Linked DNA regions of Homo sapiens: region 2 is linked to region 1. Evidence: fine-mapped expression QTL. A gene starts in region 1. The other region holds a variant in brackets. All regions are shown on one strand. Distances are from middle to middle.

The links.
Region 2: its variant is fine-mapped to the expression of TBCCD1 in thyroid (GTEx, PIP 0.97).

Annotation. Positions count from the first base shown.
Region 1 is chr3:186,556,451-186,570,610 of GRCh38, forward strand. TBCCD1 (TBCC domain containing 1) reads right to left here and starts at 10,889. Exons shown (of 8, transcript NM_018138.5): 1 at 10,817-10,889; 2 at 7,544-7,922; 3 at 1,967-2,122; 4 at 1-325. The coding sequence starts at 7,879. RefSeq lists a silencer at 10,793-11,082.
Region 2 is chr3:186,302,119-186,317,541 of GRCh38, forward strand. It overlaps DGKG (diacylglycerol kinase gamma), which reads right to left. Exons shown (of 25, transcript NM_001346.3): 3 at 4,783-4,859. Among named protein-coding and RNA genes, the nearest start is that of DGKG, 52 kb to the right of the region's middle. The variant T/A (reference allele first, on the strand shown) is at 7,346.

The DNA of each region.
Region 1 (14,160 bases):
CTGATGTACCAAATGGATTCCCAGTCAAACAGGACCTCAACCAGGTTTCCAGTTTGTAGAAAGAGAAAGTCTTAGAGATCTTTGAGAAGCCACTATCTGCATGCAGTGGTTGCCACAGTGCAAGTTCATGAAGTGGATAGATCTTCCTGGCTCTACTTATTGTACCTTCAATAAGGAAGCTGAGCGCCACAACAGCTTCTCGAGACACTAGACTACTATGGGTTGAATGAAATGATGCAGTGAGTTGTTTTGGATCTAAAAGCAGCTCGAGGAGATCAGACAGATGATCATAGACAAAAGCTTGGTGACTGTAATCATTCCAGTTCTAAAAAAAAGTTAAAAGAAAGCACTCTTAATAAAGAGATTCCACAAGATCTAAAATTTCTATATTTTAATTATTTTGTATTTATACTCTGCCTCATCCCCCAAAAGGAATTAGGTAGTTATATAAACCTTATAAAGGTGATCCGCCCGGCTTGGCCTCAGAATTTCTAATCCCTTAGAATTCCAGTTCATTAACAAGCATGATGGCTATTCCAGTCCCAATGTCAAATGCGTTTTTAGTTCAAACACCTATCACCAATGCATAATTTCTTCCTGGGGGAACTGACTGGCCCAGGTCGTCACTTTAAATCTGGCCAATTTCAAATGTATAGCAATAAATGGGCTACTCAAGTGTCCACCCCGGTCCAATCAGTTACTCAGAGAGGTCGTGCTGTAGTATAAACCAAAGTCACCATTTATTGGTGCTTACTATGCAATAAGTCCCATGCTAATATATTACTGAAGTCTCATAGTCATTCAGAAACATGCATTATTATCCTCACTTACAGAAGGGAAGCCAAGGCCTAGAGAAGTTAACTGACTTGCCTAAAATCGTATGACTAAATGATAATAAATGATAGAGGCAGAAATGAATGGAGGCTACCTTGGCTCAAAACACCATCTCCTAACAGTGCCCATTCTGCAGGAACTACATGTGGAGAGAGAGGTAGTGACTGGTATCTCTCATACATCTGGGCTTGAACATTCTGAATTTAAGCTATAGCTAGGGCATCTATATAAAGCGGTAACTATAAAGCAAGAGCTCTGGGAAGGACACAAAGTTGGGAGTCACTGAGATATATGAAGTCGTAGGAATATAAAGAATTACATTGAATGAATAAGTTAAGAGAGAAGGGAAAATTGACCCAGACAGAATAGCTGCTTGTAAGGGCCAGGGGAGAGAAATTTATGAAAGAAAGTGAGAAGAGAGAGTTAGAAGCAAAACCAAGAGTAATAGCATCATGGAATATAAAGGAGGAGAGACTTATTAAAAAGGAGATTAGAAAAGTTCCAAATAGCAAAGAGATATTTTTTCTTAGCTTTAGAACATTTTTAAAGAGCTTGTACATGGCATTAATACTGAGGCCTACATTTTACTTAAAGTTTTTCAATATACTTACACAAGAACAAGTAAAAATATTTTGGTTTTCTTTACAAAAACAGAAAGAAAAAAGCAATAAGACATCCTCTAAAATTCACAATGTGAGGCAGTTAAATTTAGCTTCTGGGTTGTCACGTATGTAATTACTTAAACAACATGAGAAGATATTTTTATAATTTTTTTCAGTAGATTTCAAAAGATTTTGCAAGCACTCCATCTTCTTGATGCTCCTTAGTCACATAAGTTGATTCGCATTGATTGACATGTTGAAAACGGCAGTGCTAATTGAACATAGTGATGATCTGCCCACAAATCAGCAAGTGGTTTTCCTACCAGTGAAGGCACTGCAACCAGTTCTCTATTGTGATTAAGACTGTACACACTGATTTTGTTTTATAATTTAAAAAAAAAGTGAAAAACAAAACAAGCCATCAAATCACTGGCTTATGTAAGAAATCTCATCATAATTTTTAATGCAAGTGAACCATCTCCCACACAAATTGTCCCTTTTAGAGAATGAGATCAAGATATAAGGAGTACCTTATTATGACAATTAGATTTTTCAGTCAGGTCAGGAGACTGAGATTTGTTTCTGGGACTGGGCCACTCTTCGCCAATCAAAGATGTCCTTAGGGAGACCTTGTTCAACTGTTGAATGTATAAGAAGAGCAGAAACTGTAGCGTGTCCACTGAAAGCTGTCCAAGAAGAAAATAAAAGATGAATAGACGTTTTAAAACATCAACCACTAGTCTAACAACTAAGTAGACATAGTAAATTCACAAGTTGGCTGATCCTAAAAAAACCAACTTAGAAACATTGCCAGTTTTGATATGTATGTCTCTGGTACCCAGATGTAAGAGTTTCTTTTTCTTTTTTTTTTGAGACAGAGTTTCACTCTTGTCGCCCAGGCTGGAGTGCAATGATGCGATCTCAGCTCACTGCAACCTCCGCCTTCCTGGTTCAAGCGAGATTCTCCTGCCTCTGCCTCCTGAGTAGCTGGGATTACAAGCATGTGCCACCACGCCCAACTAATTTTTTTGTATTTTTAGTAGAGATAGGGTTTCACCATGTTGGCCAGGCTGGTCTTGAACTCCTGACCTCAGGTGATCTGCCCGCCTTGGCTTCCCAAAGTGCTGGGATTACAGGCGTGAACCCCTGTGCCTGGCCAAGAGTTCCTAAAACTAATTAAAGTGGAATAATTTACCTTCACAGAAAGCTGTATAACATCTATGGCTATAGAAATTATCTCTCAAAACTGATGAAAGGATGTAGTACATACTTTAAGTACATTATTTCAGAAGTTTAAACTTACAATTTAAAAAAAACCAACCTTAGTAATTTGAATAAATAAGTAGATGGAAGTAAGAAAGAAGAAAATTCAGTTAAGACAGAGGTCTAACTTAAGACTCACAAACCTGTCAAGAAAGTTTAGGATACCAGTGCAATACCTGAAATTGTATGTAATTTTTTGGTATATGTGCATTTTTCAAGGGAGTAGGCCTCAGGTTTTCAGCAAATTCTTAAAGGGGTGTTTCACTTAAAGACAAAAACACTGTTGGTCTGATAGATGTATAGTCATTTCTTATTCAAGGAAGGGTGTGGTTGAAGCTCACGACTTGAAGCCCCTGATTACCCTCATCTACCCACCCCCATACAGGAGAGGCAAAAAAGTAAAGTAATACATCTGGGTCTACAGCTATATTCACCCTGATTCCCAACCTGGCTAAAAACACTATCATCTGAGAAACTTAAAAGTACAGATTCTCAGGATCACCCAGACCTATTTAATCAACTAACAATGTGAAGCCCCATGAATTTGTATATTTTATAAATTTTTACTTTCTTAATTGAACTTCTGAGATAACTGTAGATTGAGATATAGTTGTGAGAATTCACACAGAAAGATCCCATGTACCCTTTACCCGCCTTGCCAAACTATAGGACAATATCACAATCAGGATATTGACACCGATACAGTCAAGATACGAGAACATTTCCATCAACAGAACAATCTCTCATGTTGCCCTTCTACAGCCATATGCACTTCTCTGTCCCACTCACCCCTTCTTAGGCCCTTAGCAACCACTTACTTGTTCTCCATCTCTATAATTTTATTATTTCAAGAACATTAGGTAAATAGAATCATATAGTATGTAACCTCTTGGGATTGGCTTTTTTCACTAAGTGTAATTCCCTGATTTTATATATACTTCCATTTTAAACAATTATTTGTTACATTATCATTATTTCTTCATGGAGACTATAGGATCCTTGCCTTTTCCATTTTTATACTCCTAGTAACTAGCAAAGCATCTGGTACATAAAAAGCACTCAAAAAATCTGGAACTTCCTGAAGGTTTTATTCATCTCTATATGCCCAGCATCCACTACTATACCGAGTACATAGTAGATAATAAATATTTGATTAATGAATAAATGTACTGCCCTTTCCCTCTTCATTGCTTGATAAACTTTTCAATTTCCAAAACGTTGTTTAGATATGACCCTATAAGGCAGAGACTGCTAGATGCTTACTACTTTTTTTCTTCTTCCTGGGTATGTAATTAGATGGCATTTCCCATCTTCCTTTGGAGTTAGATATGGCATAAATGAATTACAGCAACTGAATGTGAATGAATTTATCTTTATCACTTTCAAGCCTAATAATAAAACTCTCAAAAGAAATGAAAGCAAAAGGACTCTGAGGCCCCAGTGGGCATGGCTGTGGCAAATTGTATTATTATTTACTATTGCTCACTTTCAAATTCTCTAAGAGGCTTATACAGCCCTACCCATGGCCATGGGATTTTCCTTATCTCCTGAAAGGTGGTTTACCTTCCCATCTTCATGGGAATAATGCCTTAGCCAATGGAATAAAAGTAGTCTTAGTTTATGTCAAATCTGAGCAAAAGTTTTAAGAGGCATCATGAGTCCAGAAACAAACTCACACATATATGGTCAACTAATTTTCCACAAGGGTGTCAAGAATACAAAACGCAGAATAGTCTCTTCAATAAATGATGCTGAGAAAACTGGATCTACAAATGCAAAAGAATGAAATTGGGACCATAGCTTATACCATACACAATCAACTCAAAATGGAGGAAAGACTTAAATGTAAGGGGTGAAATGGTAAAACTCCTAGAGAAAAATAAGGAAAAAGCTCCTTGACATTGGTCTTGGTAATGATTGTTTGGATATGACACCAAAAGCACAGGCAACCAATGCAAAAATAAGTTGAATTATATCAAACTAAAAAGCTTCTGCACAACTAAGGAAACAATCAACAGAAGAAAAGGTAAACCATGTATCTGGTAAGGGGTTAATATCGAAAATATATAATGAACTCCTGCAGCTCAATAGCAAGAAAAACCAAATAACCTAATTAAAAAATGGACTATGGACCTGAATAGACATTTCTCCAATGAAGACATACAAATGGCCAACAGGTATACGAAAAGGTGCTCAACATCACTACTCATTAGAGAAATATAAAGCAAAACCACAATGAGATATCACCTCACACTTGTTAACAAAAGATTAACAAGTATTAGTAAGGATGTGAAGAAAAGGGAACCCTGGTACACTGTCAGTGAGAATGTAAACTGGTACAGCCATTATAAAAAATAGGGCCGGGCGCGGTGGCTCACGCCTGTAATCCCAGCACTTTGGGAGGCCGAGGCAGGCGGATCATGAGGTCAGGAGATTGAGACCATCCTGGCTAACATGGTGAACCCCATCTCTATTAAAAAATACACAAAACTAGCCGGGCATGGTGGTGGGTGCCTGTAGTCCCAGCTACTCAGGAGGCTGAGGCAGGAGAATGGTGTGAACCTGGGAGGTGGAGCTTGCAATGAGCTGAGATCGCGCCACCGCGCTCCAGCCTGGGCGACAGAGCGAGACTCCGTCTCAAAAAAAAAATAAATAAATAGTATAGTGGTTTCTCAAAAAATAAAAAAGAGAACTACCATACGATCTAGCAATCCCACTTCTGGGTATTTATCCAAAGGAATTGAAATCAGGATCCTGCAAATACCTGCACTCCCATGTTCATTGCAGCATTATTGATAATGGCCAAGATATGGAAGCAGCCTAAATGTCCACAGATGGATGACTAGATAAAGAAAACTTGGCATGCATATATAATGGAGTACCATTTGGCCTTAAAAAAGAAAGAAATCATGTTGGGTACAGTGGCTTATGCCTGTAATCCCAACACTTTGGGAGGCTGAGGTGGGAGGATCACTTGAGGCCAAGAGTTCAAGACCAGCCTGGGCAACACAGTGAGATCCTGACCTCTATGAAAAAAATACAAAAATTTGCCAGGCATGATAGCACACACCTGTAGTCCTAACCACTCAGGAGGCTGAGGTGGAAGGATTGCTTGTGCCCAGAAATTCCAGGCTATAGTGAGCTATGATTACATCCCTGTACTCCAGCTTGGGCAACAGAGTGAGATCCTGTCTCTTAAAAACAGAAAGAGAGAGAAATCCTGCCATTTTCAACAACATGGATGGACCTGGAGGACATTATGCTAAGTAAAACACGCCAGACACAGAAAGACAAAGCTATGTAATCTCACTTATATGTGGAATCTAAAATAGTCAAACTCATAAAAACAGACAGAAGGGTGACTGACAAGGGCTAGGAGGAGGGGGAAATGGGGAGGTTGATGGTCAAAGGCTACAAAGTTTCCGTTATGCAAGAAAATTAAGTTCTGAAGATCTACTCTACAGCATACCGCCTAGAGATAACAATTACATGTTGTATACTTAAAATTCTCTAAGACAGTAGATCTTATGTTAAGTGTTCTTAACAGATACACACACAAAATAACAAGCATAAAAGAGGAGGGGGAACCTATGGGGGGTGATGGGTATGTCTATGTCCTTGACGGTCATGATGGTTTCACAGCATATACTTATCCCCAAACTGATTGAGCTGTATACATAAAATAAGAATTTAAAAAGAGACATCATGAGTTTCCTCCATTCTGTTGATCTTCCCTTCTGTTATAAGAATGGGAATGATCTACACAGAAGCTATTTCTTTAGCCTGTGTCCCTAAATGGGGAAACACGGAGCCTGGACAAATGCCATAGCAAAAATGAAGCCCACATGTAAAATGGGCAAGAAATAAACCTTTTCCCCTGTAAGCCACTGGAATTTCATTTGTTTGTTCTTAATGAATGAAATCAGCTTTTAACAAAGCTGATTAACAGTGACTCCAAGTGATAGAAGCATGGATCCCTGGTCATCGCTTGGATGACAGCAGCCCAGAGATTTGTCCAACCAGGAGCAACTGTGTTAGATTGCTGCCTGAATGAGAAATAAACTGTTACTGTTCTAAGCCACTGAAATACTGGGTTGTCTATTACTATAATCAGCCTACTTGATTAATATACTTTCTCTGTGAAGTCTTTCCTTATCACTGAAATAAATCATTCTTTATTCAATTTCTGTACTTTGTGTATTCTTTTATTATACATATCACACTATTAAATAGCATCTTTTTTTAATACCAGCTTCCTCTACTAGTCCATAAGCTCCATGAGGGTTGAGATGCTATCCTAATCATCTTTGAATCCCATCATGTAGCAGATGTTCATTTTAAAATAGTCAGGTGCTCTGACTGTAACATATCAGTTGTTCATAACACTCATTCACCCCAAAATCTTTTTAAAGTCAGTAAAATATTTCCCTTTTTCAATAACAGGGTCTCTGTAACATTACTGCTTTGGGAGTAGGTGAGTAAGGTCTGGTAAGTAAGGACTAATTCATTGAATACATGAAATACTGCCAAACTGGAACTACTAAAACTCAAATGATAACTTGAGATTACAATGGCCATTAGCCTAAAACCTAAAATTTTACAGCTAATACAAAAATTAAGAATGGTTTATTGGGCCAGACATGGTGGCTCATGCCTGTAATCCTAACATTTTGGGAGGCCGAGGCAGGAAGACTGCTTGAAGCCGGGAGTTCAAGACCAGCCTGGGCAACAAAGTGAAACTCTGTTTCTATCTAAAAATTGTAATAAGCAAAAACATTTTTTAATTTAAAAAAGAATGGTTTCTTTCCAAAAGTAATTAAGTATACACACATATCAATCCGTACCTGATTTCTCTGCTTTTCAACTTCCTCCTCAGACATGCAGTTGGACAGAACCTCAGACCATTCCAGGCGCTCCTCAGGTGTCTTCATTGAAAGACTATCAAATATTTCGAAGTAAAGCCACGCCAGGTCCTTGGCCAACTGCAGCTTCCCACAAGCGATGTGCCTCCATGTAGACCAGTAGAGGCGCGGGTAAGCTCCTTCTGTGGCCCGGATTTGCACATAGGTGGATATCTTCCTGAGATAGTGAAGACTAAACTTGGATGGAGGGGGGACCTGCAAGGCACCCACTATAAAGGGTTCTGCTTTCACCCAGAGGAGAACTCTGGACTGATCCATATTATCTCTAAGGACATCAGGGTGAAAAGGCTTCTTTGCATACCTAGGAAACAAAGTTTCTTCATAAACTGATTTGAAACAAGTCTCATTTATGCATTTTTTCTTGGAAGGTGACCCCTCTCTCTCAACTGTGTCATATGTACTACATCATCATCTTAAAAGGCAGCTCTAGTTCACCAACCAAGAGCAGAACAGTTTTTTTAATCAGATCTCATTATAATCTGAGAAAAAAATTGTGATAAAACAAAATTATCTTACTTGAATTGTTAGAAATCCTTGTTTTAGGAAGTGTGTGTAGATGCATGAAGTCTGAGTGAGATCCCAGGAAGAAAATGAATGAGGGGAAAAAAGTCATCCTATCACAGGAAACCTTTTTCTACTCTGAGGGGGAACACTGTTCAAAATAAGGGAAATACATTTCACAGAGTTAAATCACTTACACAGAAGACAGTTGGTTAAAGATCTGGACATGTTAGCTGAGCATATAAATTCAATATGAAGTGCTAATGTGAGGCAGCAGGCAAGAATGCTAATGTAAATGTAGACTGCAAGAATAGATCAGGAGAAGTTACAGCATCTTTATTCTCTATAACAGTGAACCCACTCTAGCATATTTGATCCTGCTCAGTTCAGGTGTGATTTTTTAGATTTTTTTTTGTTGTAACAATGATACATGATTTTTATGGAATATTTATAAAATACAAAAACAGGGAACCATCCACAATCCCACAAGTAAAGGGCAACAAATTAATATTTTATTGTATTTCCTTCTTCTTCTTCTTTTTTTTTTTTTTTTTTTGAGATGGAGTTTCCCTCTGTTGCCCAGGCTAGAGTGCAGTGGCATGATCTCAGCTCACTGCAACCTCCACCTCCCAGGTTCAAGCGATTCTCATGCCTCAGCCTCCCCAGTAGCTGGGACTACAGGCGTCCACCACCACACCTGGCTAATTTTTGTATTTTTAGTAGAGATGGGGTTTAACTATGTTGGCCAGGCTGATCTCAAATTCCTGACCTCAAGTGATCCCTCGCCTCAGCTTCCCAAAGTGCTAGGATTACAGGCTTGAGCCACTATGCCTGGCCTCTTTGTCTTTTTTCTACACATAAATTAGATGTTAGTTTTTGAATTTTCACAGTTGTGATGTTACATACACAATTCTGTACTGTTTCAAAAGCTTTATAGTATTCTAAATAAATGTATCCCATTTTATTCAACTCTTCTCCCATTTTTAGACACCTTACTAGGTTTCAGATTTTTCACAAAAACAACATAGGCAAAATACTGATCATTATTGAAGTGGGGTAATGGGTACGTGGGGGGCTCACTGATTCTATTTTTGTGTATGTTAAAAAATTTCATTACAAAAGTTCAAATGTTGTCACAAGTGTAAATAATGCTATCACTACCATCTTTCTTCATATTTTCTGCATTACGAATTATTTCTGTGTGAAAATTTTCAGATGTACTTTTGTGAAATTAAGTAATTGACATTTCTAAAGCTTGTGAAATATATCCTTGTTGCTTCCAAATGATTTTATCAAATTGTACCATCCTTTGACTCTGGTACCTACTTCACTGTGCACTCCTCAACATTAGCAACATCATTTTTTTAAAAATATAAAAACTAATTTAAAAAATCAATTATATGACTGATGAAAATTTTATTGCTATTATTATATTTTGCATTTGATTCTAAGAAAACTGTGCTTCTCTCTTTTTTTTTTTTTTGAGACGGAGTCTCGCTCTGTTGCCCAGGCTGGAGTGCAATAGCTCGATCTCGGCTCATTGCAACCTCCACCTCCCAGGTTCAAACGATTCTCCTGCCTCAGCCTCTCAAGTAGCTGGGATTACAGGCTCCCGCCACCACGCCAGGCTAATTTTTGTATTTTTTTAGTACAGACAGGGTTTCACCATGTTGGCCAGGCTGGTCTTGAACTCCCTGACCTCAGGTGATCCGCCTGCCTTGGCCTTCCAAAGTGCTGGGATTACAGGCGTGACCCACCGCACCCGGCCTGCCAACTGTGCCTCTCTCGAGAATCATCTGTTCGGAAAAATAACTGACATCAATCGAGTGCTTACTATGTACCAGGTATCATGCTCATGATTTTGCATACTTCACCTCCTTTCATCCTCACAACCACCTGGAGATACAGTACTTAAGACTGTACACATTTTCGATGAAAAAAAAATGAGGCTTAGCGAAGTTAAGGGATTTCCCTAAGGACACCTACTTAGCTGGCACAGCTCTAGATTAGGATTCAGGTCTGACTTGAGAACTGCATTACTATAAATGTACTCTAGGAATCCAGTTTTGGGAGAATCTCTTAAAAACGGGAGTGGATCCAGAAGAGAATTTCCAGAATAAAGAGTCTTAGACAGGAAGCCAGGTGAAAGAACCAGGGAGAGTAAACTCAAAAGAAGGGCGTGGAAGGGCAAAAGGCAGCTGTCTTCCAATGTGGAGAGACTGGAGTCGTTTTGAGTAAAACCAGACGATAAAAGTTAGGCGAGGAAGACCTCGGTTCTCTCCAAAATGTAAAGAGGCTGCTCTGTGAGGTACTGAGCCCCTGTCAACAGCCAGATCCCAGAGATGAGCCCTCCATTCTAACTCCGAGAATCGAGAGGGCTCAATCCGTAAACAAACATAAACTGGGGCTCTGACCCTGGCGGTGCCCTGAGGTTAAGGTTTTTCAGGTCGGGAGATCGGCGTGGGTCCAAGGCGGCTGTCCTGGGGCTTCGCCGCCACCTTGGACGCGATCCGGGGTGGGACTCTGCGTGGGCCGCCCCAGCGTCGCGACCGGACTTCAGGAACACAGACGCTCACGCTGACAGGGTCGGTAGCTGACCCGAGACGCGGTAAGCGCGAAGGCAGCCTCCTCGACCCAAGCCTGAAGCCTGACTAACCCACACCGCCCTCCCCGGCGCACCCAGTGCGCGGTTACCTGCTAATGCAGGCGCCGCTCCGCCGCACTTCTCCGCGCGCCGCCGCGCCCGGCGTCCGCTCGCTGGGCCCGCCCCTCACCCTCCTCCGCGCGCCGCTGCCGTGCCCACTGCGCAAGCGCGAGGCCCCGCACCACCGAGACCTGGCGGACCCCGTTGCTAGAGCGGCAGATTGCGGCTCAAGCGTCTGAGAAAATCTAGGCTGGGGTCGAGAGTCCGCAACAGTGGCACCTGGAGCCAGACCCACCGCTTTCTGGTGTCGCGCCTTTCAACCCGGGGGGGTAGGAAGCTTTCTGTTGCTCCGCATAACTGTGGTCAGCTAATAGCTGCTGGTAAGATCAGCACGCTTTCATCAGAAATGCTACTAATACTAATGGCAGTTTGCATTTATAGAGCACTTACTATGGTCTCAGCACTGTGTAAAGCAACTTTATGTGTATTTCCTAAGTCTTGTCAAGAGCCCTTTAAGTACATTCGTTTTACTGATGAAGAAACTAGGGCCTAGAAAGGTGAAAATAACACAACCCTAAGGTCACACAAGAGATGGAGCCAAGATTCAAGCCCAGGGCGTCTGAAGCAAGACTGGCACTCCCTGCCGCCCCTCGGTGTCAGCTCCTTAACTCTGTTAGCTTTCCTGCCGTGTTTCCACCTTCATGAAGCTTTTTCAGATTACCGGGCAGAAGCCATCACTCCTTCCTTTAAACTTCCATTTCAGAATTTCTGGACATTTCCTGCTTTTTTTAGTTCCTTTATGGCCTCTCTAGGTGTGATAGATACAAAGGTAAATTAGACCGTAAAATGCAATTTAGTTCCTCTTTTGTGTGGCCATTGTCCCTACTGGGTATCTTCCTGAAAGCAGGGGCTTCAAATTTACACATACCTGGGTTAGGATCCAGGCTGCACCACTTATTAGCTCAGTGACCCTGCTGTTACTTGTTGAGTACCACTGTGTGTCTGGCACAGTGGTACGCACTAGAATGACAGAAGTGAACAAAACAGACAAGGTCCTTGCTTTCTTGGAGTGTATAACAGGGAGAATAGACAATACATATTAAGGAATAAAATAAGATAATTTCAAATAGTGAAAAATGCTATGAAAATTGGGGCGGGGGGTCAGGGAAGGCCACTTTGTGGTGCCAAATTTGAGCTGAGGCCTGAAGAGTAAGAAGCCAGCCATACAATGATCACCATCCCAGTAACTTTGACTCAAAAGTACTTCAGCACCTACTCCATGCCAGGCACTGTTCTAAGGTGCTCTTTTATACAGCTGTGAACAGAACAATATAGATTCATGCTCTCATGAAACTGGCATTTCAGTGTGTAAGTCTAGGGACCAGGGATGAAAAAAATAGGAGGCCGGGCGTGGTGGCTCATGCCTATAATCCCAGCAGTTTGGGAGGCTGAGGCGGGTGGATCACTTGAGGTCAGGAGTTCGAGACCAGCCTGGCCAACATGGTTAAACCCAGTCTCTACTAAAAATACAAAAAAATTAGACGGACATGGTGGTGTGCGCCTGTAGTCCCAGCTACTCGGGAGGCTGAGGCAGGAGAATCGCTTGAACCCAGGAGGCGGAGGTTGCAGTGAGCCAAGATCACGCTACTGCTCTCCAGCCTGGGCGACAGAGCGAGACTCTGTCTCAGGAAAAAAAAAGAAATAAAGAAAAGAAAACAGGGTGGTGTAAGAGTAAGGAACTCAGTAGGGGCTAATTTTGATTAATTGGTCAGGGAAAGTCCTCCCTGAGGTGGCGACCTTTAAGCTGATATATGAGTTAAAGAAGGAATCACCCATGCTAGCACATGAGGGAGAGTACAGTGTTTCAGGCAAAGGCAATAGCTAGCACAAAGGCCCTCGGCAGGAATGAGCTCGGTGTATACAAAAAAAAGAAAGGAAGCAAGTTTTGCTGGAGCATGGTTAGGAGTATAATAGGTTTACAAAGCATAAACGGCTTTGTAAACTAGCATGGAGTTGGGATTTTATTCTAAGTGCAAATGAAGAGCCATTCCAGGCTTTTAAACAGGGGAGTGACATGATTTGACTTTTATTTTTTATTTATTTATTTATTTATTTATTTTGAAACGGTGTGTCACTCTGTCGCCCAGGCTGGAGTGCAGTGGCAGGAACTCGGCTCACTGCAACCTCCACCTCCCAGGTTCAAGCAATTCTCCTGCCTCAGGCTCCCGAGCAGCTGGGGTTACAGGCGCTCGCCACCACACCTGGCTAATTTTTGTAGTTTTAGTAGAGACAGGGTTTCATCATGTTGGCCAGCCTGGTCTCAAGCTCCTGACCTCAGGTGCTCCGCCCGTCTCGGCCTCGCAAAGTGCTGATTACACTTTGGGTGGGTGAGCCACCGCGCCCGGGCTTTTTTTTTTTTTTTTTAAATCATGGAGTGAGGGACAGGGATGAGCAACATATATTAAGATATTAAGGAAGATATTAAGAGTGGGGGCAAGGAGGCCAGTTAGGAGGCCCTGGCCAGGTGAGAGATACACTGTGACCCAGAATCCTGGTAATGGAGATGTAGTGAACAGATTGAAGTATAGTTCAGAGGTAAAGAGTTGGATAGCTTATGCATGAAAGGAATAAAAACACCTAGAGCTTTGTCCTGATCAACTAGGTGTTGTGTAACTGCGATGAGCAAAATCGGGGGGAAGATGGGGAATCAAAGAGTTCTGCTTGAACCGTAATAATGGTTTTTACTCGTTGCCTGCTTACTATACGCCCGATGATTTACCGATTTTTTTCCCTGTTAAAATTCACAGAACTGCCAATAAGTGCTTTGCCTCAGTTTTGTTGATAAACTTAGGCTCAGACTTGGGAGGAGGGGAGGGGTGGGGGGTCTCACCACTAAGAAGCGGTGGAAGCCGAATCCGAACTTAAGTCGGTCTGTCATCACTGTAGCCTTTCCGAGACAGTTGTCTTATGGAGTTGCTTGGAGAACGTAAAATAAGAGGCCTAAGCAATGCGTCTGATGTACACCTGTCGTGGAATAACTGTTCCCGCTCATTCGGCCGCTGTACCTCTGCTCCCTCATTCGGAGCGTAGCTGGGTATGAATGAAATTCCGGGCTTGTAGCACAGAGAAAACTTCTCTCCCACAATTGGTTGGTGCTGGGGAGGAAGCTCCTGATTGGTGGAAAGTCCGAGGAAGTGGGCAAGCCGGAGGGATTTCGTGTACCTCAGGTGCCCTCACTCTGACCGGCCCCCTATCATTACGTAATTTTCTACGACTCGCGGTAGCTCAGGCAGAGCGGGTTCCTGCAGCGGCGCGACCCTCTGACGTCTCCGCTTCTAATTGGTCAAGAGCTGCGACTGCAGTTCTGAAGCCTAACTGGTTGCCCGTGCCGCCT
Region 2 (15,423 bases), 250 kb before region 1:
GGTTCCTGCCTTGTGACACTCATATGTGCTGCTCTGCATTGATATATAGTTGTTTGTGACAGACCTTGGTTCCTCTACTCAATCCAGAGCTCCTGGAAGTAGTGAGAATGTCTCCTTTCATCTTTGAATCCCCCACACCACCTACCACAGGGTTCTTCATAGGTATTTGAATGGATGATGTGTCCTAATCAGTGCACCTGAGGAATAGCCTGGTGCCTGGTCCCTGGATGTCATCAACTACTATGGGATCCATTCAGTCTATGTATAGATTGAATGGATATATGTATCTCCACTCACAATTTGCTGAAGAAGACACAGATTGGAAAAAGGGGGGAAATGTGCTATATATATATATATATATATATATATATATATATATATATATATACATATGTGTATATATATATATATATACATATGTATATATATATATATATATACACATATGTATATATATATACCCACATACATATATTTATGTGTATATATGTGTGTGTATATACCTATATCTATATCTATATCTATATATCTATATATCTTGAGCCTCTTAAGTGCAGGGCACAGTACAGTGCTGGGCACCAATGAATTAGGCATGAGTCCGTATCTTCAAAGAGTCAGTGTTATATAAGAGGTAAAGATATTGAAATAATTGCAATGTGTGGTCATCAGTGGCGAGTGCCATAGGAAAAGAGCTGACAAACTGTTATGAGAACTTAGAAAATAATACTGATGGAACTCATCCAACCATGCATGTCCCCATCCTAGAGAACAGGATGCACAGAATAAACCCAGAAGCACAGAACATGCAAACCAGAAGAGTCTCAGAGGGGACTCAGTCTTCTGATGCCTCCGAGGCTCAGGAAATTCAGTGATGAGCCCCAGCGAGCTAGCAGCAGAGTGAAACCAGAAGCCAGACCTCCTGACTCCCTGTCCAGTGCTCCTGCTACTATATCTGTCACAGGGTCCAGAGCTGGCATAGTGCTCCCTGACACTCCCTCCCAGTATCCCATGTTCAGCAGGCAAAGACATGCAACGATGTGCCACACTCTCAAGGTGATATCTGGGTTATACAAAAGTTCTTTAAAAGCACAGCCCAGGAACAGAGTAGCTGCTTAGTAAATGCATGATGAGAGACTAACTAGGGAGTGGCTAGGGGTCATGCCCAAACCAGATGACCAACCACTATGAGGCATGCTGGCAATTCTCTGAGACCTGGACTAACATCCCAGGCACACTCATGGTTCAGGCCAAAGGAACTCTGTTTTTCCCCAGCAGCTTTTATGCAGGAATTAGCTGGGCAATTTGCTCCTGCTGCAACACACTTAAAGAGAGTGTGTTAATCCTTACACAGACCAAGAAGAGAGAACTAGATGGAGAGCTTAGCAGGCATCCGGCACTTTCATTCTCAAGACAGCAGTGTGGGGAAGAACTGTTACTGTCATTCTGGGGATAAAACAAATTTTGACAACATAAATAACTTGCTGAAGATCATAAAGCGTGTGGCAGAGCTGGGCTTTGTGATCAGGTGTCTGGGTCCAGGCTCACAGTGCCACCAAGCCACCTGCCTCTTTTGCTTTTCTGGGTTTTGCCCACTCTCTAGCTGTCTGCCACCACTCTATTCTCCAGAGAATCACTTGGTACTGATGGGCAAGCGCATGTTCATCACGGCCAGATGCAGCTCTGCCACTCTGCAAAGTTTTATTCCCATCCTACCTTTGCTAGCAATCTGCCCCTTCCCACAGCTAACTCGTTTCTCATTGAGACATTTTAGCAGCAGTAAGCCATCAAACTCAAGAGAAATTAAACCCTTCTTATTTCCCTAACCCTGTGCCATGACATTACACCTACTAGAAGTCAGCTGCACTGTGTGAGAGAACGAAATCAGAGTGACAGAGCTCCCTGGGACCCAGCAGTGCCTGGCATTACAAAAAGTGGGGGCCAGCCCCGACAGAGGCGAGGGCGGCTGCGTGCTCATAGCAGCCAAGCGACTCCCTGCTTCTGAAAGCTCCTGTGGCCTCCACACCTGCAGTGGCCCTGACCAAACTGTTCCTCTCCCACTCATCAGCCCCAGGGCGGACAAGCTGATTAGCAGCCGCCGCCAGGCTTTGTTCCCGTGTTTTTGGAGCTGGGGGTGGGGGGTGTGGGGCAGTGAGTTCTTTGCTGGCTCTGCTATCTTCTCTGCATGGTTTCTCCTCAGGAATGTTCTTTGAAATGGTGCATTCTCAGTCTCGCCCCTGTTCTGGCAACCTTCTTCCTGCTTCATTCTCTCTGCAACTGGTGTATTTTATCCAAAGCCCCTTTTAGGTGTACCTTGAGGGCACAGGCTCTGTTGATTCATTTCCAGTGTCCAACGGAGAAGGTGTTGACTCAGTTTTGTTCAATGGATGACAACGTGAATAAGAAAGTGGCCAGTCTCTCCCTAAGTGAATCCTGCAGATCAGTCACTTTTCTGTGGTTAGTCTTCATAAAAGGACTCAGGAGCAGGGAAAAGGGAATTGAGTTAAAAACATTCTGGGGAAAGGGGATGGAAGAGGGATAATAATAGGTACAGATTTTTAAGTGCTTGTAGAATGTTAGCCACTTTGCAAAGATCCTCTCATTTAATTCACTCATCCACAAACTTCGAGGCTTTTTTTGTTATGTACAGTTTATAGATGAGGAAAGTGAGGCTCAAAGATATGAAATATTATTCAAGACCACTTGTTGATGGCAGAGGTAGAAGTCTAACTTAAGACCATGTAATTCCAGGGTCATGGCTTTCAAACCTGACCCTGCCAGTAGGAAGTAAGTCCTGGAGGGCAGGAACTGTGCTTCTATATTTTTATGCCTTCTACAGTGCCCAGTACAGTGCATAGAAGCCCAAGAAATGTTAGAGTCATTGAATTTGAAAGTAGGGGGAGATCTTGCATTCATTTATTCAGTCCACAAATGTTTATTGAATGCCTGCTATAAGCCAGATACTTTTCCAGGCACTGAAGACACAGCAGTGAACAAAAATATGCTAGTGGGAGAGACAGACAATTAATTAAGTAAATTATATAGTGTGACAGGTGGTGAGAAGTACTTAGGAGGAAAATAATGCAGAGCAGGGGGATAGGAAATGTCAGAAAGAGGGCTTCAAGTTTTAGATGAAGAAGGTGATGATCACTGAGAAGGTGACTTGAGCATAGACTGGAAGGTGGTAAGATAATGGACAATGTGATGTGCTGAGGAGGAACATTTTAAGAAACAGTAACAGCAAGCACAATGGTGCTGAGGTTACGGTGACACTGGCTTATTTGATAGCATCAAGAAGGCTAATATGCTGAAAAGGAATGAAGATGGGGAGAGTAGCAAGAGATGAGGTCAGAGAGCTGGGGGAGGTGCAGCTTGTAATGACCTTCATGTTTACTCTGAGTAGGGATTGGGGGAACCATGGGAGATTGTGGAGTAGAGCAGTGACAAGCTCTGACATAAGTTTTAACGGATTGCTCAGGATGTGTGTGAAGAATAGACTGAAGCAGCAAGGGCAGAAGCAGGGAGATGAGTTAGGAGACTCTTGCAATAATCTGGGCAAAATATGGTGATGACTCAGGTCGGGATGCTAGCAGTGCAAGTGGCGAGATGTGTCTATATTTTGGATACATTTTGAAGGTAGATCTAACAGAATTTGCCAATGAATTGGATGTGGGATGTGAGAGGACAGAAGTTGATGATGACTGCATAGTTTCAGGTTGAATAACTTGAAGGGTAGAGTTGTCATTTACTGAAATGGAGTAGACTGCTGGAAAAACAGGCTTTATAGGGGAAGATTAAGGACACATCAGTTTAGCTCATGTTAAGTTTGAGATGCCCATTTGATTTTTAAGTGTAAATGTCAAGTAGAAGGATAAGAAGAAATCAGGAGAATGTAGAATGTAGTGAAGAAAATGGAGGATGACTTGACCAACCGTGTCCAGTGTTGTTGAGCAAAATTGCTATTGGATTTAGCCATAGGGAGGCCCTTGGCTATCTTGACTAGTGATTTGAGTGGAAGAGTGAAGGTTATAGACTGATGCAAGGCATTTCAAGAAAGTAGGAAAAAGAGAATTTGGAGGCAATGAGTATAGAGAAGTATTTTGTACAGTTTCGCTGTAAAACACAGGAGGGAAATGAGGTGGTACCTAGAGGAGGAAGTGGAGTCAGGAAAATGTTTTTAATATAGAAGAAATAACAGGATGTTTACATGTTGATGGAAAAATAAAATATACGAAGAAAGCTGATATGAAGGAGACAGAGGTAGAGATATAGAGAAAAGGAGGGACGAGGAGGGAGGGAAAGAGGGAGTCTGGGGAAGATATGTTGCTGAAGCAATGCCTGTAAGTAGGCCAAAAGAGGATGGGGTTGAGTGCACACGTGGGGGAGTTGGACGTAGATAGGAGCATGGAGAGGTCATCTCTGGTTATAGAAGAAAAGGTACAGATAGGTGGGCCTATGGGGTGAGGGAGCTTGTGAAAGATCTGTTCTGTTTGTTCTATTTTTTCAGTGAAGCAGAAAACTCAGTTGTTAACTGAGGATGAGGAGAGGAGGGGTGAGAGATGAGCAGAGGAGAAGTAGTGGTAGTCTTCTAGGACAGTGGAATGAGTGTATGGGCTTGGGAAACATATAATGCCAGGTAGCACAAATGGCTCACTTGAGACTTAAGAGGAAACATGCTGAGGAGCAAGTTCTTCAAGGCAAGCGGAGTCTCCAAGAGGGAAACAAATTATGGAAAGGCTAAAAAACACAGGGGTTTTTAAAGGCTTAAAATGGAAATGTTCTTACCTCATGTGGGTCATATTGTTTGAGGCTCCCACCCTCATTAAATTCAGTCAAGGCATCTTTTATCTTCTTGGAGGAATCTGAAGAGACACAATTCACATGTGAAACACTGGCAAATAGCTAATGGAAGCTGGGCCAAGTAAATTCTCCCTGTGTAACCATGTTTATGTTGGAGCTGCCCCTCAGTCCCAGAAAATCTGGAGAAATGTCACCCTCTTCTACCCTTTGTCCTCTCACTTCTTCTTTTCCATCTGACTTCCCCCCTGCATCTAAATTATCTTTCTGAAACACAAATCTGATCAGATCATATCCCTACTCAAAACCATTCAAGGGCTTTCTGTTCCCCCAGGATAAAGCTTACCATTCTTAGCTTAGAAGATAAGCCCTTAACTTGGAATACCAGCCCTTGGTGATTTTATTTATCCTATTCCTCATTTCCCTATTTACTCTACGTTTCAGCCATATCAAGTTACATTTCCAGACATCCCTGAACATATTGTGCACTCTCTCATGATGTTTCTTCTCTGTCTTGCAAATTTCACTCATTCTTCAAGATCCAGCTCAAATGTCAACTCCTTTGTAAAGTCTTCCTTTGCACCAGTCAGAGTTAAGCATTCCCTTCATTGGCTCCCACGTGACTTGTACACAACTATGTAATAGTGCTTGTCATATAGTGTTATAATTATTTATTAACTTGCCTATCTTGCTCATCTCCTGCTTCAGCTTTACCTTGAGAGCTGTTAACTGGCTGGTGAGTCTTTGTCTATCATACTAAGGTCTGACGTGTAACTAGGGCTCAGAAAAACAATATGTAGATGAGTATATAAACATCTGAGTGAAAATTTCAAAACATTAAAAATTCATTAAGTATGTAGGATGAGTGGGCATTAAACCCCATAAGGCTCTGTCCTTGGTGCTGAAACACTGTTGTACACTATGGCAAGATAGTTTCTTCTACTTCTGGAATCTTGACAACTCTGTCCCTTTTTTTTTTTTTTACCTGATTTTTATTTTTTATCTTGATGGATAAAATTGAGCTACTCATTCTGACACATAAAACATAACCTCAATTATGTCTCATAATTAGCATGGTTGATTTTATGTTCCCATGGTATTTCTCACATATTTCTGACAGCCAGAAGATTTTCCTCTGAAAGTTGAGGCCTCCACCCCCCGCCATGATTTCCCCTTAATGTTCCCTCTATGTTGCATTTACTTTGGAAGGGGATAAAGAAAGACTCAGATAATTCATCAAACATGGTGTTTTCGAAAATGCTGCTTTCCATAGGAAATCATTCAGAAGCAACTGGAGGCAAGACTGGCTGCTTCTTTTTGGAATTTTATAAAGGAATTGGGAATCCAGAAAAGAGACTCAATAATTGTTATTAAAAACACATTATGAATGCATCTTGTGCAGCTATCAGCACTCTAGACATCAAAGCAAACCAGGGTTTCTCTGACCTTGGCTATCCCTCTCTTCCAATATTGTGGGTAATTAAGAGCTTTCCAAGCTCCATTATTGTTGCTATTTAAACATCTGAGCCAAAGGACGATGTTATTAAAAGCTCACACAGTGTTTTTTGTTGCCCAGGCTCTTTGTACAGAGGGTTAATGTCTCTTAAGCCTAGGTAAAGTAGACATATTCGTGGGCTGGGCTGTTCTCCATGGCTTTGCTGACTTGGATTCAATCAAGCAGAAGTTCTAATCATTTCAGGATTGAGACATATTGAAATACAACAGGAAAATGCTTCTGTTGCCTAAAAATGGAAATTTCTTTCTGAAATTCAAAACAGATGTTGAAAAACTAATAGCTCAGTAAGAGCCAGGCAGCAGATGCTGTCAATTTGGGCTGCTTCCATTCAATTCAGAAAACACTAAGGAGGGTAAGATGCGGCAAGATACTGTTAATGGACTAGTGGGAAAGATGATCTAAATAACTGTGGTACTAATAGCTGTCCCTTACTGGAGACCTTCACCTGCATAGTCTCATAAACTCTCCTCTACTAATCCATGCAAGTATTTTCTTCAGTTTACAGATGAAGAAGCTGAAATTCAGAAAAATTAATTCGACTTGCTCAAGAGCCAGGGTTGTAACTCAGGTCTAGTCTGGCTCAAAAGTGTATGGTCTTTTCCCTTGAGCATTATTCACTATAGCTTCCTAAACATTTGTTAACATAAAGAAAGGTGTAATTAAGGGTGACACAATGATATGAAGTTCTATGAAACACCAAGTTGGGAAGAAGAAAAATTAAGATGAAAGTGGGGTAGGGGTGGGAACTGAGGCTGCCCTATAAAGGAGGTAGCATTTGAGCTGAGGCATAAAGAATTGGGTAAGGTTTATAAAGGCAGATATGAAGTGGAAAGGGTATTCTCGGAAGAGACCAAGGGAGCAACGGTGCAGAGATGGGCACCATAAAACGTTTAGGACAAGTCAGAACCAGAGAGTCATTTGTGGCTAGATTTGTGGGGGTCTTGAATGTAGAGTTAAGAACATTGATTTGAAATGGTTAAAGATTTTTTTGAGTGGTGAAATAATATAACCAGCTCTCTGTTTTCTAAAGACCAC[T/A]CTGGAAACAGGATGAAAGAGAAGTTAGAATGAGACCAGAGCTCAGTTAACATCACACATATATGTTATTCCACAAGCAGCTTAATTATTTAGGAAAACAAATCCTACATTTTAGAATCTATTTTAATGGGAGGTTGTTAGCTCAGCCAAAATGGCTAAATAAAAAAAATAAAAATCTGAGAACATGAGTACCCCTGGTGTGACTTCTGCAAGAAGAGTGTAGAGTTAGCATTTTGATTGAGAACCAGTGGAGTAATTTCAATTGAATATATGATATTTTGATGTTCTCATCTCATTTTGGATATTCCACCATTCACTGTAGCAGAATTCCTTTGATTCTAAAGAGCTGCTGCTCTATTTTAAAAATCCTGCTTTATATTTAAATGTGTGATATATATACACACATAAATTCATCATATGTTCGCATAAAATAAACTGAGGTTTTAATAAGAAAAAAATAGAAAAGACATTTATTTTAAAATATCTGATTAATAGCCTGAAATTAAATGGAAAAAAAAAACACAGCCGGGCGCGGTGGCTCACGCCTGTAATCCCAGCACTTTGGGAGGCTGAGGCGGGCGGATCACGAGGTCAGGAGTTCAAGACCAGCCTGGCTAACATGGTGAAACCCCATCTCTACTAAAAATACAAAAATTAGCCGGGCGTGGTGGCACGTGCCTGTAATCCCAGCTACTTGGGAGGCTGAGGCAGGAGAATCACTTGAACCCAGGAGGCGGAGCTTGCAATGAGCCGAGACCGCACCACTGCACTCCAGCCTGGCAACAAAGCAAGACTCCGTCTCAAAAAAAAAAAAAAAAAAAAAAAACCACACACACACAACAAGAATCCAGGAGGTTTCTAACTAGCTTTCCGTGAGGTGGATTACTCATCACACATTTACTTCAATTTGCTTTATGGGCTTTCATAGGATTATAGTATCAATACCCTTTAAAAAAGGGAATCAACTTAATTCTCAAATTTGGGACACATTACTTTCTCCTTGGATGTCCTTATATACTTTATAACAGTTTTCTTCTTAATAGATGTCTGGGTTGGGTTTCTTTTTCCATGAGGAGTAAGTAGGTATTATGCATGACTAATCTGCTTCAGTGACAGCTGCTTTATTCTGTTTCATCTTAAGACAGAAAAGAACAACGAGGGAATAGCATCCCTTGGTCTTATTTTAGGTGTCATCTGTGGGTCCAATAGTATAACCTCACAGAAAATTCCTTTGTCAAAGCCTTTACCATAATACCAGCACTAGATTCAGAGGACACCTTGTTCCATTTCTGCCTGTAGAAAATAGGGCCATTTCCACAGCTCTTTGTAACAATTCCCATTTTGTAGAGTGCTTATTATATGCTAGACGCTGTCCTAGTCACCTTATATATTTTATTTAAATCCCCACAACTACCCTCTAATGTAATAATTATCCTTATTTTAGAGAAGAAACCGAGGCTTATGGAATTTAAGTGATTCTTTCAAGGAGACAGCTCGTAAGTCACACTTCTTAAACATTTCTAAATCATAGGCCATGGTTATTGGATTCACTGGATACTTGAACACTGGTAAGTTAGAAGCCAGGACTCTTCCTCTATGAAAGTGGCTCTCAAACCTGCCTGCATGTTGAAATCACCTGGGGAGCTCTATACACACTGTAACCCAGGTCTTACCCCAGGTGAATTAAGTCAGCATCTCTTGAGGAACCCAGGACACAGTATAATTTAAAAGCTTCCTGGAATTCAGATGTACAGTCAAGGTTGAGGACTGCCATTCTAGGACATGATTTTATTGTTGTAAATGAAGACTGTCCTAAAAAGCCCCTGAACTTGAATACTTATTGCCAAGGGAAAAAAAAGCTTATAACTTCTAAATTTAAAATTGCTGTGCTTGGCAGACATTATCCATTGTTTAAGTGGACAACACCAAAGAACTCTACCCAACAGGTCAACTTGTTCAGCTGCTTGGCAAGGTAGGAGCATGTTTTGCATTCACCCAGACTGTCAGGACTATCCACATACAGTTCTGTCCTAAATCGGGTGTTCAGAAAGTTTTTCTCTTTGATCAAGGTTACCAGTGCCCTAAGAAGTTTTCAGTCCAAAATTGTCTTCTATACTTTATGTGCCAAGAACTCTGGGACCTAAACCAAGCACTGTTCCTAGTGTTTGAGCAAATTCAAAGCCTTTTAAAGGGAAAAATTTGGCCCTACACACAGACACCTTTGTTGCCTTGTCAGTGTGGGACAGGGGTGCGTTCCATCTGAACAAGCAGACAAATCAGAGACTTCAGTGTTTACAGCAGAATATTAGTTGTGCTGCCAGGACTAGACCCCAAAGTTTATAGTCTGTTGTCTAGTTAAGAACACAGAGTAGGCCGGGCGCGGTGGCTCACGCCTGTAATCCCAGCACTTTGGGAGGCCGAGGCGGGTGGATCATGAGGTCAGGAGATCGAGACCATCCTGGCTAACAAGGTGAAACCCCGTCTCTACTAAAAATACAAAAAATTAGCCGGGCGCGGTGGCGGGCGCCTGTAGTCCCAGCTACTCGGGAGGCTGAGGCAGGAGAATGGCGTGAACCCGGGAAGCGGAGCTTGCAGTGAGCCGAGATTGCGCCACTGCAGTCCGCAGTCCGGCCTGGGCGACAGAGCGAGACTCCGTCTCAAAAAAAAAAAAAAAAAAAAAAAAAAAAAAAAAAAAGAACACAGAGTATTTGAGCATTAGACCATTAAACTGTTAAACTCCGAAAAAACTATAAATCAACATTTTCAAAAGTGAATCTGAAAATCCATATATGAGAGTGGAATTCTAAGGTACATGATAACTCTTCATTCCTCAAAGTTCTCTATGAGCTTCTCAAACTGTAATGTGCGTATGAGTCACATTGGGATCTGGTAAAAATGCAGATTCTGTAGGACTGGGCCACAGCCTGAGATTCTACATTCTGAATAAGATCCTAAGTGACACCAATTTTGCAGGTTCACGGACCTCACTTGATACGCAGGCTCTAAGCAATGTCCCTGTGGATCTGGGGCTGACTGCTGAGGCTTGCCTGTCACAACCCAGAAAAGACCACGATGCCGAGGACAAAGGAACATACTCAATGGAGTAGAAAGACCATAAGTGGTGGGCAGGGGGAGTCACTGAGACGAGGGGAAGGGAAAGTTGGCGCATGAGCAAAAAAATAAAATCTAGATTTTCCTTCTTCCAGTGAAGGCTGGGATGTAAGAATACATTTTCTAATTACTCTAGGAAGTTATACAGTGAGATGCACAAAAACAAGAGCAGAGTTTTGTGAGGGTCCTGAAAAATGTCAAAACAGAAGGGCCAGGGCCAAGAGCACTGCATCAAAAGGCCCACCTCTTCAGCCAGCTGGAGTCAGGCCTCAGAGCAGCACGTGGGAAGCACAGGGGAGAAGCCCAGCTTCATAAGCACGGATGTACTTGCTACACACATATTCTCCCATCTAAACTTTGTTTCTGCTCACTGTTCATCCCCAGCATGCAGCCCATTGCCTGGCAAAAAAAATAGATATTCAAGAAAGATCTATTGAATAAATGAAGGCTAGCAAAGGGATTGAGCTGGTCACACTTGTCCCACATGTCCTATATTCTCAGGGGTATGGAAAGAAAAGGTAGACTAGTGGTTATCAACCTTGGCTGCTTATTGAAATCACTTGCAGGGCTTTAAAAAATACTGATGCCCAGGCCCCTTGCCTACAAACTGTGATTAAATGATCTGGGAGGTGTGGGCAGAACATTGGAAGTATTCCAAGCCTTCCATGTGATTTGAACATGAGCCGAGGCTGAGGACCACTGACATGTGGAAGTGATGGCTCTGACACAGATGTTACATATGAAATAATAAGAAAAGACTTTATATAGAAGCAGAGGAAATTGGGGTCAATAGCAATAAAACGTTTTTTAAGACACAATTTTTTTGTCATAAATGATCTGAATCACTGGTATGACTTATTTGTGTAAGTAAAATTTGTATTGCTAGAACATTTTCTCACCTTTTCTCCAAATAATTTGGCTTCATCAGTCGTATTTCAAGTGAAGGTGGAGGAATGGATCAGACAACTTGGACCATCTTGCAACTAAAAGTGTGGTCCCTGGACCAGCAGCATCAGCATCACCTGGGAGCTTGTTAGAAAAGCAGATTCTCAGCAGTACCCCAGACCTACTGATTCACAGTCTGCATTTCAACAGCTCTCCAGGAGATTCATGTGTACATTAAACATTGAGAGCTATTGTTCCATAGAAATTCCTCCCTATCCGTAGATTCTGTGACTCCTGGTGGGCAGAGTCCTACTCATCGTTAAAAGAAAAAAAGGTCTGTGGTGCTGAAACACATGTAGGTGAGAAATAGTTATGGCTATCCTTCCAAGATAGAAGCAACTAGATATGACCCTTCATGGGCCCAGGACTTCATGAGCATTTGATCAAGTCTCACTCTACTGGCCAGCATAAATAGCAAGGTTTTAGTGACATTTACTTAGAGCCTTCTATGGTTCTACATATCAGCCCTAAATATGTTCTCTGACTCTGACAGTTTTGTATTTTGAACTGTAACTACATCTTAAAGTCAGAAACTTTGTCATAATCTGATTCGAAAGAAATATATTTCCTAATAGCACAATTTACTGATTGATTCTCTTTAATTACATCTTAAAATTTTGCTTTAATGTAATTTAATTGACATATACATATCTGCACACACACACACACACACACACACACACACACACACACACACACACACACATTAATGTATGTTTGAAGGTTGAGCTCCAGTGGGTACTTTTTGTTTAATTTGTTGTTGCTGAATTGAAGCAAATGAGTTTGTACTAGAATTGAGGGACTTTTGGTTCTAATTTCTATTTTACTATCGACCTTCTTTCTATATGACCTTGGGCAAGTCACTGAGCTCTTCTGGACGTAGTAGTCTCAGTTTTAAAATGTGTAATGCTTGGCATTGATATGGTTAAGATTTTTCCCAACTTAAAAATTCTGGCTGAGTGCGGTGGCTCACGCCTGTAGTCCCAGCACTTTGGGAGGTCGAGGCGGGTGGATCACCTGAGGTCAGGAGTTCGAGACCAGCCTGGCCAACATGGTGAAACCTTGTCTCTACTAAAAATACAAAATTAGCTGGGCATGGTGGTGGGAGCCTATAGTCCCAGCTACTTGGGAGACTGAGGCAGGAGAAACGCTTGAACCCGGGAGGCGGAGGTTGTGGTGAGCCGAGATCGCGCCGCTGCACTCCAGGCTAGGTGACAGAGTAAGACTCCGTCTCAAAAAAAAAAAAAAAAAAAAAGTTCTACACAGTCCAAGCAACTGCTGGCTGATGTAGGAAATGTTTGGTTTAATTTCTTAGAGAATTAAAAGTTTAATGGATGCTTCTTCAGTTGTTTTTCCTTTTTTCTCTTTCTGAATAAATGAATAGTTTCTGTCCTTGAGGCATCATGGAACTTTTAAGGAATTAACAAAAAATTGAAGAAAAAATGCCCACCCCCCAATGGCCACCAGCAATTATTGTTAGGAAGAGGGTCAGTAGGCGGCATCCCCACATGCACACACCCTCTGCGGTAGAAATCTATTTAAATATAGAAACCAAGTATTGGAGGAGCTAATGAAGGTCATTTAATCAACCAGATGACTAAAGCTGTTATCTCCCCTATAGTGTCCAAACAAACTCTCTGCCCAGACAGTTCCAGGGAAAGGAAACCCAGTCACTTTTAAGTCAATTCGATTCCATCTTGGGCAGATTTGACCACTAGTAATTAATGTATTCCACACTTTAAAGACTTCCTATAACTTCCTCCCATTAGTCCTAGGGCTACCTCTTGAAGCCATTCAAAATTAACTACACACCTCTTCCCACAACAGTACTGAGCTATTTTAATACAACGAGCTCTTCTTCACCTTTCCCTTCCCTTCTCCAACAAATATGCACAGTATCTTCATTTCTCCATAATGTGGTTGTGAGGCCCCTTACCAACTCTCAAACAAGTTCCAGGTTGTCCATGTCCATCGTAAACCATAGTGACCATAAATAAATTCAGTTCTCTAGAGAGGTCTGACGGTCTATCAGGGTAGGCTAGAATGTGGATATCAGTTTGCCTTACTAGGCACTGTGAGTCTATGAATACAGCCTAAGATTGCAATGACTGATTTGGTTAGATGAAATAGTACAAATGTAGTAAAAAAAAAAAAAAATCTCTGCAACCGCTAACAGCTATGCTTCTGAAGAGTACAGAATGATGTGGGAATGACTCATGATCGATATTGTGTGCTAGCCAGTTTCCAAAGATGGCTGCCATAAATTCTTTCCCTCCCTATGTGAGTCCCTCCTCCCTGAAATGTGGAGTCCGTTCCTCTACTTCACTGAATGTGAGCCAGGCCTGTGACTGCACTGACCAGTGGAATGTGGAGGGAGTTCCGTTCTAGGATCTCTGATCCCAGGTGCTAAAAAGATCTGACAGCAGCTTCTTCTGTGCTCTTGGAGCCCTGAGCTGACATGTTAGATTTCCAGGTTACCCTGCTGAAAAGAAAGGACATATGGAGAGGCCCTGGAAGACAAGAAAGTGCTGGAGAAAGAGGTTCCATGAAGGAACACTAAGGTCCCACCATGTGAGTGAATGAGCCATGACGGATGGTCTAAGTCCTCACTTGTTTGAGGCCTCCCCCTTGAAGGTCCAAACACTGTGGAGCAGAGATGAGTCATGCCCACCATGTCTGCCCAGGATCCTGACCCACAGACTCATGGGAAACCAAAATGGTGGTTGTTTCAGCACACAAGTTTTGAAGTTGTTTTGATGCTGCAATAGGTAACTGAAACATATTGTTAAGGGAAAGAAAACAGCATACAAAATAGCACAACATGCATATTCTCAAGTTTGTTTTACATGTGTATGTTGTATATGTGTATATATGTATATGTGCTTGCATATTTTGATATCTATATTTATACTTATATTTATACATAAACATGCTAGTGCTGGTTATCACTGGAAAATAGAATCATGAGTAGCTTTAAATTTCATCGTTTTATAATACAAATTTCTTAATATCACATTAGCTCTTTTGATAAGTACTTTACATTGTAGATTGATAACAAACTTACTGTCAGCTATATGTGTGTGTGTCTGTGTGTATATGTATGTACGTTTACATACAAAGTTAAGTTACTTGTCTCCAAGAGCAGTTTTAAGATGCCCCACCCTCACCCTATAGAAGGTCACCAGAGAAGGTGCCAACTTTACACTATATAAATGGAAAACAACAAGAGCCTCTCCTACCTGGTAACCCCACTGGAGAAAGTTCTCAATTCTCAGGCTGTACACTTCATTATTTTGTTATTGTAAAGCTCCTGTTTATGTGGTTACGGAAGAGTGGTTGCTATGGCAATGCAATCCGACTGAACACCAGAATGTGTCTAAAATTGGTGGGAATGACTTTTTCAGGGTTTCCTCTGAGGATTAATCATTTTGTAAGAATTGTATCTTTTTTTCCTCTCCTGTTCGAACAACAGTAGCAGAGTGCCTCATCCAGTCCCGCGACATGGACAACACGAGCAAGGGTCAGAGAAGGACAAAGGTAAATGTTTAAAGAAAAGGCCCAACCCCAACACAACCCTCTTCTACTGAATACTCTGGTTCCTTTTCATCCCTCCGCCTGCTCAGCGGCTTTGCTGCATTTGGAGCTCCTCCTTGCCTTTGCGCCCTCCATGCTGCACTCTTTTCCACCTACTTGCCTTTCTGGTTCTTCTCTCTGTGTCTTCTGCTGAATCCTGATAGAGGCATACCTTAAGCCTCATTCTCCAGCCTCTTCTTTTCTTTCCTAACATTCCTACTGTCTGAGTGCCTTCATTCATTTTCTTTCTCTCCTTGCCATCTCCTCGCATGATTCCCAAACCAGAGCTATGGACTGACCCCTCATTTCCACTCAAATCCCATCACACACCCTCCTGGGGCCTACAGGACATGTTTCTTAGAAAGCAGGATTCCCCAGGATGGGGTCCTACTTTCCTTTCTAGTTCTTCCCCCAACACTCCTGATGCCACCACCAACACATGCTCTGGG